2 separate regions of the Homo sapiens genome follow, and region 2 is linked to region 1. The links come from fine-mapping of genetic effects on gene expression. A gene starts in region 1. The other region holds a variant in brackets. All regions are shown on one strand. Distances are between the middles of the regions.

The links. PIP is the estimated chance that this variant, and not a neighbour inherited with it, causes the effect.
Region 2: its variant is fine-mapped to the expression of NPLOC4 in whole blood (INTERVAL, PIP 0.98).

What each region holds. Positions count from the first base shown.
Region 1 is chr17:81,634,125-81,639,493 of GRCh38, forward strand. NPLOC4 (NPL4 homolog, ubiquitin recognition factor) reads right to left here and starts at 2,988. Exons shown (of 17, transcript NM_017921.4): 1 at 2,792-2,988. The coding sequence starts at 2,806. TSPAN10 (tetraspanin 10) reads left to right here and starts at 3,072. Exons shown (of 4, transcript NM_001290212.2): 1 at 3,072-3,282. RefSeq lists a silencer at 2,718-2,927.
Region 2 is chr17:81,557,662-81,563,030 of GRCh38, forward strand. NPLOC4 (NPL4 homolog, ubiquitin recognition factor) reads right to left here. Exons shown (of 17, transcript NM_017921.4): 17 at 1-1,755. The coding sequence ends at 1,598. Among named protein-coding and RNA genes, the nearest start is that of FAAP100, 8.0 kb to the left of the region's middle. RefSeq lists enhancers at 1,050-1,551, 1,552-2,051, 3,328-3,427. The variant A/T (reference allele first, on the strand shown) is at 3,266.

The sequences.
Region 1 (5,369 bases):
GCCTTCCAAAGTGCTAGGATTACAAACGTGAGCCACCACGCCCTAATTTTTGTATTTTTAGTAAAGACGTGGTTTCACCATGTCGGCCAGGCTGGTCTCAACTCCTGACCTCATTATTCACCTGCCTCGGCCTCTCAAAGTGCTGGGATTACAGGTGTGAGCCACCATGCCCAGCCCAGAAACTTTTCAAAAGATCTCTTTCTTAAATTCAAAATAACTTTTTAAATCAATTTCAAAAGAAGAGTGTTTTAATTCCTCACAATCTGAGACATTCAACGAGATCCAATGCTGTCAATGAGAGCCTAGCCTTATACACTAGTGGGAAAAAAAAAATGGCCTTGTCTGAAACACTTTTCACTTGTCAATGGTTATTTTAACTCAGTTAAAAGTACAAAGGTAGTTTGAAAGAAGGTTTCAGTGCTAATTCCTAACCTATTTCTAGGCAAAGTCACCAATGATTAACACTTTTTTTTTTTTTTTTGAGACAGTCTTGCTCTGTCGCCCAGGCTGGAGTGCAGTGGCGCAATCTGGGCTCACTGCAACCTCCACCTCCCGGGTTTGAGCGATTCCCCTCCCTCAACCTCCAGAGTAGCTGGGATAACAGGTGCATGCCACCACACCCGGCTAATTTTTTATTTTTAGTAGAGACAGGGTTTCACCATGTTGGTCAGGCCAGTCTTGAACTCCTGACCTCGTGATCCGCCCACCTCGGCCTCCCAAAGTGCTGGGATTACAGGCGTGAGCCACTGCATGGCCACATTTTATTTTTCAAAGGAGTCAAAGGTTTCTTGGCCGGGCATGGTAGCTCAGGACTGTAATCCTAGCAATTTTGGGACCCCAAGGTAGGAGGATCCCTCGAGCTCAGAGACCAGCCTGTACAACATAGTAGAGACCTCATCTCTATAAAAAAATGTTTTTAATTAAAAAGATTTAAAGGCCAGGCGCGGTGGCTTATGCCTGTAATCCCAGCATTTTGGTATGCCAAGGCGGGCGGATCACGAGGTCAGAAGTTCGAGATCAACCTGGCCAACACGGTGAAACCCCATCACCACTAAAAATAAAAAAGACATCAGCCATGCGTGTTGGCGAGCACCTGCAACCCCAGCTACTCGGCTGAGGCAGGAGAATTTCTTGAACCCGAGAGGCGGAGGTTGCAGTAAGCAGAGATCGCACCACTGAACTCCAGCCTGGGCGACAGAGTGAGACTCCATCTCAAAAAAATAAAATAAGGTTAAAAAAAAAAAAAAAAAAGGAGTCGACGTTTCCTAAGTTTCTCCTGGGCCATATATTCATTCCACTCATCTCCAGGTTGGGAAACATGGAGGCACCAAGAGGGCCCCTGACTGGAGAGATGATGGAACCACCAGAGAACAGCCTTGCAAATAAGTGCTAGGTTCTCCTGGAGACCCATTTGTTTGTGTGTGTGAGACAGTCTCATTCTGTCGCCCAGGGTGGAGTCCAGTGACGCCACCTAGGCTCACTATGTTGTCCAGGCTGGTCTTGAACTCCTGACCTCAGGTGATCCACCCACCTGGGCTTCCCAAAGTGCTGGGATTACAGGTGTGAGTCACCGCGCCGGGCCTGGAGACCTATTCTAGACAACACCTGGCAAAACTGCAGAGACTGTCACAATGCTACAGTATGAACATTACTCTTCACCCAATACTGCTAAGCTTCCCCCAGAAATCCCAAATCTTCCTTAATATTAACCAAAATGCTCCTGTCCAATGGTCAGTTAGTTTTTTTCCCATCACATTTACTTTTGGGAAGAAACTTCTCACAACTTAACGAGGGACTGGTTTTCTGATTTGTCACTGATATTTTTTACGTTAAGGAGGAGTGTGTGACAATTTTTTTTTTTTTTTTGAGACGCAGTCTCGCTCTATAGCCCAGGCTGGAGTGCCATGGAGGGATCTCAGCTCACTGTAACCTCCACCTCCCGCGTTCAAGCAATTCTCCTGCCTCAGCCTCCCAAGTATCTGGGATTACAGTGCGCCATGACGCCCGGCTAATTTTTTGTATTTTTAGTAGAGACAAGATTTTGCCATGTTGGCCAGGATGGTCTCGAACTCCTGACCCCAGGTGATCCACCCGCCTCGGCCTCCCAAAGTGCTGACATCACAGGCGTGAGCCACTGCGCCGGGCCGACAATTTCAATTTCAGGTAAAAAGTGAAATCAACATCATTTACAACATTCCTTTTAAAGAGGAATTGTCAAGTTGTCCTTCCAAGTAAGGAGCAAAGCCGGCAAGTTACTGTGTTTTCATTTTCCCAGGTCTTCTGGTGGGGAGGGAGCTCTGTAACGTCCCCGTCTGCAGAGCTGCTCTCCTTAGTGACTCATGACAAGGCACTTGCTGGGAAGCGGGAGAGCAGGAGGAGAGAATCAGAGGGAGATTAGGATAAGAGGTGTCCCTGGCTCTGAGAGGGGCAGGACTGGCTGGGAGTCCCTGGAATTAGACCAGGAAGTCTCCTGGAGCCGGGAAACGGGTGGGGAAGGAGGGCGGTTTCTCTTCGCCACAGTCCATTCTCCCTGCTTAGAAAGGCTCGGCCTTTCCCTGCCCAGGGCGGGGAACCGGGGTCGTAAGTCCCCTGGGGAGGGACACGGACGGGAAGCAGCCGAGGGGGGTGAAAGTCCCCGAGAGGGGCCCAGCCACTACAGAGAAAGCCCTGGCGAGAGAAGAGAAAGGGGCCGAGTCGCGGCGCCGGCAGGCCCGCCTCCCCCACAGGCCGAGGCCGGCAAATCTGCTGCCTCATCCCGGCGTCCCCGCTCCCGCCCGGCCGCCGCACTCACGATGCTCTCGGCCATGGCGGCTGCTCCTGCCTCCGGGCTCGAGCCCCGGGCCGCCGCCGCCTGCCGCCCCAAGGGCCTCGCAGACCCGGCCGCGGCCTCAGCCCCGGCCCCGGCCTCCCTACGCCGCCGCCACCGCCGCTCCAGCTTCGCCCGCCCGGCTCCGCCAGCCGCCGACGTCCCGGTGCCTCGCTCAATACGCTCCCCTCGGGCGCGAGGCCGGGAAACCAGGTTCCGGCCCCACCAACGGCTCGACGCATGCGCAGGGCGGCGCCGCTGACCCGCCCCCGCCATCCCTGCAACTGGAGGAGGGGATTTTGGAAAGTTGCGTCTGAGATTACTTCTGCTCGTCCTCGGAAACCCAAGCGGCACAGGAAAGTCCAAAAAGGAAGCAAAGACGAGCATCCGAAGTCTCACCCAAAAATAACTACTGCTGCGTATTATAGCGTATTATAATTGGGGAAACAGCATTCCAAACTTCTCTCCATGCACAGGTAAGTAGAGAAACAATTTCAGGAAGGCAGGATCACACCTTCATGTTTTTTTTTTTAAGTATTTTTTAAATTTAACATAAGAAAAACAAACGAGTTTAAACTGCATTTCAGGCCGGGCGCGGTGGCTCATACCTGTAATCCCAGCATTTTGGGAAGCCAAGGTGGACGGATCACCTGAGGTCAAAAGTTCGAGACCAGCCTGGCCAAAATGGTGAAACCCCGTCTCTACTCAAAATACAAAATTAGGCCATACGCGGTGGCTCACGCCTGTAATCCCAGCACTTTGGGAGGCCGAGGCAGGTGGATCACCTGAGGTCAGGAGTTCAAGACCAGCCTGACCAACGTGGTGAAACCCCGTCTCTACTAAAAATACAAAAATTAACTGGGCGTGGTGGCGGGCACCTGTAATCCCAGCTACTCGGGAGTCTGAGGCCGGAGAATCTCTTGAAGCGAAGAGGCGGAGGTTAGAATGAACTGAGTTGGTGCCACTGCACTCCAGTCTGGGCGACAGAGTGAGACTTCATCTCAAAAAAAAAAAAAAAAGACGTCACTTCACAGATTCTAAGGATTTTTGGAGTTGGATACCAGGAAACCGGAAGACTAAATGTATACATATTTCACAACATCACAATTACTGTGACAGTTTTTTTAAACTATGTTAAATTACATTAATTGATTAAATTATGTTAGTAATTGTATTAGTTTGCTCAGGGTGCCACTGTAACTACCCAACATATTGTCCCTGCCCACTGCCTAGACTTTATCAAGACAGGGGAATTGCAATAAAGAGTTTAATTCACACAGAGCCAGCTTGTACAGGTTACTGAGGTTTTATTACTACTCAAAAAAAATTAGTGTCCTTGAGAATTCAGGGATCAGAGTTTTTTGTTTTTTGTTTTTTTTTGTTTTTGAGTCCGAATCTCACTCTGTCACCCACACTGGAGTGCAGTGGCGCGATCTCGGCTCACTGCAACCTTCACCTCCTGGGTTCCAGTGATTCTCCTGCCTCAGCCTCCCGGGTAGCTGGGACTACAGGCGCACACTACCATGCCTGGCTAATTTTGTATTTTTCGTAGAGACGGAGTTTCTCCATGTTGGTCAGGCTGGTCTTGAACTCCTGACCTCAGGTGATCCGCCCACCTGGGCCTCCCCAAAGTGCTGGGACTATAGACGTGAGCCACCGTGCCCGGCTGGGGATCCGCGGTTTTAAGGATAATTTGGTGGGTATGGGGTCAGAAAGTAGGGAGTGTTGATTGGTTGGGTCAGAGGTGAAATGATAGGGAGTCAAAACTGTCCTCTTGTGCTGAGTCGGTTCCTGGGTGGGGGCCACAAGATATGAGCCAGTTTATCAATCTGGGTGGTGCCAGCTGATCCATGGAGTGCAGAGTCTGCAAAATATCTCAAGCGCTGATCTGTTTTTTAATAGTGATGTTATCCTGAGAAGCAATTTGGGAGGTTTAGAATCTTGTAGCCTCCAGCTACATGACTCCTAAACCATAATTTCTAATCTTATGGCTAATTTGTTAGTCCTGAAAAGGCAGTCTTGTCCCCAGGTAGGAAGGGAGTTTGTTTTGCAAAGGGCTGTTACCATCTTTGTTTCAAAGCTAAACTATAAACTAAGCGCCTCCCGAAGTTATTTCAGCCTACACCCAGGAATGAACAAGGACAGCTTGGAGGTTAGAAGCAAGATGGGTTCAGTTAAGTCCGATCTCTTTAACTGTAATAATTATCTCAGTTATAAGAAAATATAACATAACAAAATCTCTCACAGACTGGGTGGTGGTTTGGAATTACTTTTCTTTTTTTTTTTTTTTTTTTTTGAGTCGGATCTCCCTCTGTCGCCCAGGTTGGAGTGCAATGGCGCGATCCCAGCTCACTGCAACCTCCGCCTCGTGGGTTCAAGCGATTCTCCTGCCTCAGCCTCCTGAGTAGCTGAGATTACAAGCGTGCGCTACCACGCCCGGCTAATTTTTATATCTTTAGTAGAGACAGGGTTTCACCATGTTGGTAAGGCTGGTCTCGATCTCCTGACCTCGTGATCCACCCGCCTCAGCCTCCCAAAGTGCTGGGATTATAGGCATGAGCCA
Region 2 (5,369 bases), 76 kb before region 1:
CTAGGAGGGAGAGCAGACAGCCCGCGGTGGGCAAGCTGGGAGTTGCATCCGCAGCAGTCCGCTTCAACCCAGCTCCTCTCCACCCTTCCTGACCCTCCACAATAGCTCTGCCGTGACCAGACCCAACCCAACTGGCCCCTGGTCCCAAGAGCAGATGAGCTGCTTGGGCCTTCCACTTGGTGTCCCATGCCAGGCGGACCTGGAGGTGTCAGCCATGGCCCTGACCACTTCAGAAGCCAACAGGCAAATGTTCTCTGTTCATAGTGCCAAGAATGTGGGTCACGTGGGCTTACCCCCCAGGATGGACACAGAAGTCCCTAAGCAGTCTGCAGCTGGGCCAGCCTCTCCCGTGGGTGCAGAGCAGCCCAGATGTGGCCATCATTAAGGCAAAGAAGCATCGAGATGCCCACCACTCCCCGGGTAAGAGCCATGCCCCGGCCTGGCCACGCCACAGAGGAACGCAGAGCACACAAGCAGGACCCCACCACGTGCTGTTCCAGATCGCCCAGTCTCCCTCTATTGGTACACTATCAATTGTGCAGTGCCCCAGGGAGGTCCCAAATGGCCCTCACAAGAGGCACAGCCCCTAACGCCCTCAGCCAGGCGGTGCAGTGGGACGAAGCAGCGTATTGGGGAGGGCCAGAGCATCGGCACCGGTGACCCAGCTCTCCCACCCAGGCCATCGCAGGGCAGCCTCAGGGCAGGCGCCACCACTGCTCCTGCTCAGCCCGCAGTATCTGCAGTTGCTGCAGCTGTGTGGCTTGGTAGAAAAGTCTCAGGCACTGAGGTTTACTTCAAGGGAGAACTGACTGGTGCCCCCGTCCACACTCATCACCCTGGACACAACCTCGGGGGCTTCACTAAAGGAGGGAAGGATGTGGAAACTAGTCTCTCTCACTCCCCTTTTGTGCAGTTTTTATCTTAAAAAAAAATAAATAAAAGTCTTCTGGGCAGGAATTACTGATAACTGTTATTATAACCAATGCAGACTTTAAAATCCCACCTGGACATCGGGTGAGAGGAGGAGGGCAGGCAGCAAACCGACCTGCAGACCTGCAGAGGGGAGCCGTGTCCAGGGCCACTGCGTCCCCACCAGACAACAGCTACTAGAAGAGGAAAGTGGCCCTCACAGGCAGGGTGCCTGCCACCAAGCAGTCAGACAAGGGGGTAACCAAGAGCTCCCAGCCAGAAAAACATGGGGGCAGGGAGGCCAAACAAAAAGCACTGAAAATAAAGAGAAGGCTGGGTGGTGGCAGCATCGGCCCCTCCCTGTGCGCCCCAATTCCAGGTGCCACGTAGAGGCGAGAGGTCTTTCCAACACGGCGGGGGACTTGTCAACAGGATTAGGCGTGAGGAGCCGCTCTGCGTTTCCAGTCTGGAGACTGCATTCAGCCTGCAGAATACCAGCCGTGGCGCCCGCTCTCCAGGGAGGAACGTGCTGAGAAGCTTCAGTGGGTCAGGGAGCCCAGGACAGCCAGCCCCTTGTTCCTCCAGGGCTGCCCACTATGGGGCAGTTACAGGGAACACACTCAGCAACGCTTCTGGCTTCAGGAAGGGCTGGGCTGGGCCCGGTCCTAGCCAGCAGAGGGCAGGCGCCCTAGGTCCTGGGGAGGCTGCACATCTCGCAGTGGCCTGTGCCTGGCTGGTTCATGAACGTGCAGTGCTGACAGGCCCACATGGCTGCAGTGGCCGTGTGTGTGGAGCCCCCGACGGCGCCGTACTCATGGAGACCTGGGAGCTGCCCGCCAACTGTGCCTGCAGGGTGGAAGAGAAATGAGCACTCATCATTTCTGGCCCACCAGAGACTGCCAGAGTGTGGGCATGGGGGCAGGGGCAGGCAGCTGAGAGCTCCCCGCCCCCAACATCCCACCCAGTGCTGGTCCTGCCCACACAGCACTCCCACCACAGGCACACTTTGAAGTGCTTAATGCCCTCAGAAAAATGCCTCCTGCACCACAGGGAGTAACAGGGAGCCTGTGCTTGCTGGTTCCTTTTTGTTGCAGAGGGTGCTTCTCCTTGTGAATAACGTAACTCCCCGGGGGATGTGCATTTGGGTTGTTTCCAGCTTTTTTTTTTTTTTTTTTTTTCTGAGGTAGGGTCTTGCTCTGTCACCCAGGCTGGAGTGCAGTGGCACGATCTCGGCTCACTGCAACCTCCACCTCCCGGGTTCAAGCGGTTTTCCTGCCTCAGCCTCCCAAGTAGCTGGGATTACAGGCATGAACCACAATGCCTGGCTAATTTTATCTATTTTTTGGTAGAACTAGGGTTTCACCATGTTGGCCAGGCTGGTCTCGAACTCCTGACCTCAGGTGATCCACCCACCTTGGCCTCCCAAAGTGCTGGGATTATAGGTATGAGCCACCATGCCCAGCCTCCAGTTTTGAGCTAATATGAACAAAGTTGCCAGGATCATTCTTCTACAATTTCTTTGTGGACCTGTGTTTTTATTTCTCTTGGATAAAAACAAAGAGTGAGGCTGGGTGCAGTGGGTCACGCCTGTAATCCCAGCACTTTGGGAGGCCGAGGCGGGTGGATCACTTGAAGTCAGGAGTTTGAGACCAGCCTGGCCAACATGGCGAAACCCGGTCTCTACTAAAAATAATTAGCCAGGCGTGGTGGTAGACACCTGCCGTTCCGGCTACTCAGGAGGCTGAGGAAGGAGAATCCCATGAACCCGGGAGGGGAAGCCTGCAGTGAGCCGAGACCCTGCCTCTTCACTCCAGCCTGGGCGACACAGCGAGACTCCATCTCAAAAACAAACAACAGGCCGGGCGCGGTGGCTCATGCCTGTAATCCCAGCACTTTGGGAGGCTGAGGTGGGCAGATCACAAATTCAAGAGATGGAGACCATCCTGGCTAACATGGTGAAACCCCGTCTCTACTAAAAATGCAAAAATTACCTGGGGGTGGTGGTGCGCACCTGTAATCCCAGCTACTAGGAAGGCTGAGGAAGGAGAATGGCGTGAACCTGGGAGGCGGAGGTTGCAGTGAACCGAGGTTGCAGTAAGCCGAGATCTCAAAACAAACAAACAAACAAACAACAACAACAAAAAACCTACCTAGGAATGAATCTGCCGGCCCACAGGGTAATGAATTGTGTGCTGAACTTTCTAAGACCCTGAGACACAGTTCTCGCGAGGGTGGCACGGTTTTGCCTCCCACTCGCAAGGTACGAGAGTCCCAGCTGCTTCACATCTTCACTCACACTTGACATTGTCGCGTTTTTTTCATTTCAGCCACACTGATGAATGTGTAACGGCTTCTC[A/T]TGTTTTAATTTGCATTTCCCTGATGACTAATGATAGTGACTGTTCCTGCATCTCCTTTTTTTTGTTGTTGCCGAGGCTGGAGTGCAATGGCGCAATCTCGGCTCGCTGCAACCTCTGCCTCCTGGGTTCAAGCGATTCTCCTACCTCAGCCTCCCAAGTAGCTAGGATTACAGGCACGTGCCACCACACCTGGCTAATTTTTTTTATTTTTAGTAGAGATGGGTTTTCACCATGTTGGCCTGGCTGTCTCGAACTCCTGACCTCAAATGATCCACCGCCTCGGCCTCCCAAAGTGCTGGGATTACAGGCGTGAGCTACCATGCCCGACCTGCATTTCCTTTTGTGAAACGTTTCACCCTCCGCCCAGCTTCTTCTTCTGCTTTCTGTTTGATTAACAACAGGCAGAGTTATTTTTAAGTTTCAGATAGAAGTCATGTTGTGTGTATGTACTGCTAATACTGCGTCCCCCATTGGTGCCTTTTCATGTTTCTAACAGTGCCCTGTGATGAGCACAAGTGTTTTGTTTAGATAAATTTATTTATCAATTTACCTATTTTTATGCCAGTGTTTTTCTGTGTTCTACCCCAAGGTCCTGCATCCTGCCTAAAAGAATCTTTGCGTACCCCAAGGCCCTGAAGAGATTCAACTTAATAACTGTTTTACAGTTTTTATTTTTTTAAGACAGGGTATTGCTCTGTCATTCAGGCTGGAGTGGTATAATCATGGCTCACTGTGACCTCGACCTCCTGACTCATGGGATCCTCCCATTTCAGCCTCCCCAGAAGCTGGGATTATAGGCGTGGACCACTCACCATGCCCAGCTAATTCTTTTTTTTTTAATATTGTTTTTTTGTACAGACGGGGCTTCACTATGCTGTGTGGGCTGGTCTCACACTTCTGGGCTACAGTGTCCTCCAGCTTTGGCCTCCTAGAGTGTTAGGATTATAGCTATGAGACATCATGCCCAGCCTGCTTCATAGTTTTACCTTTTACCATTAGGCCTATGACCCATCCTGAGCTGATCTTTGTGTCTTGTGTATACACGTCTGTAATCCCAGCACTTTGGGAGACCGAGGCAGGTGGATCACCTGAGGTCAGGAGTTCCAGACCAGCCTGACCAACATGGTGAAACCCCATCTCTACTAAAAATATAAAAATTAGCCAGGCGTGGGTGCACGCCTGTAGTCCCAGCTACTCGGGAGGCTGAGGCAGGAGTATCACTTGAACCCAGGACGTGGAGGTTGCAGTAAGTGGAGATCATGAGATTGCACTGCAGCCTGGGTGACAGGGTGAGATTCCGTCTCAAAACAAAACAAAACAACCCATGAGGGCCGGGCGCGGTGGCTCACACCTATAATCCCAGCACTTTGGGAAGCCGAGGTGGGTGGATCACTTGAGGTCAGGAGTTTGAGACCAGCCTGGCCAACATGGAGAAACCCTGTCTCTACTAAAACTAAAAAAATTAGCTGGGTGTGGTGGCAGCCACCTGTAATTCCAGCTACTTAGGAGGCAGAGGCTGGACAATGGCTTGAACCCGGGAGGTGGAGGCTGCAGTGAGCTGAGATCACACTACTGCACTCCAGCCTGGGCAACAGAACAAGACTTTGTCTCAAAACAAACAAACAAAAAACCCATGAAAAAATGCCCAACATCACTAATCATCAGAGATGCAAATTAAAACCACAGTGAGATACCAGTCAGAACTTACACCAGTCAGAACTGCCTATTATTAAAGAGTTGGCTGGACATGGTGGCTTACCACTGCAATCTCAGCACTGAGGCGGGAGGATCGCTTGGGCCCAAGAGTTCAAGACCAGCCTGGGCAACATAGTGAGACCTCATCTCTACAACAAATTTAAAAAATCAGCCAGGGATGGTGGCACATGCTTGTAGTCCCAGCTGCTCAGGAGGCTGAGGCGGGAGGATTGTTTGAGCCTGGGGAGGTCAAGGTGAGACTGACCTCAAATGCCACTGCACTTCAGCCTGGGTGACAGAGTGAGAACCTGTCTCAAAAAAAAAAGGAGGGGGGAAAAAAAAAAGGTCAGGTGCAGTGGCTCACAGCTGTAATCTCAGCACTTTGGGAACCAAGGCAGGAAGATCACT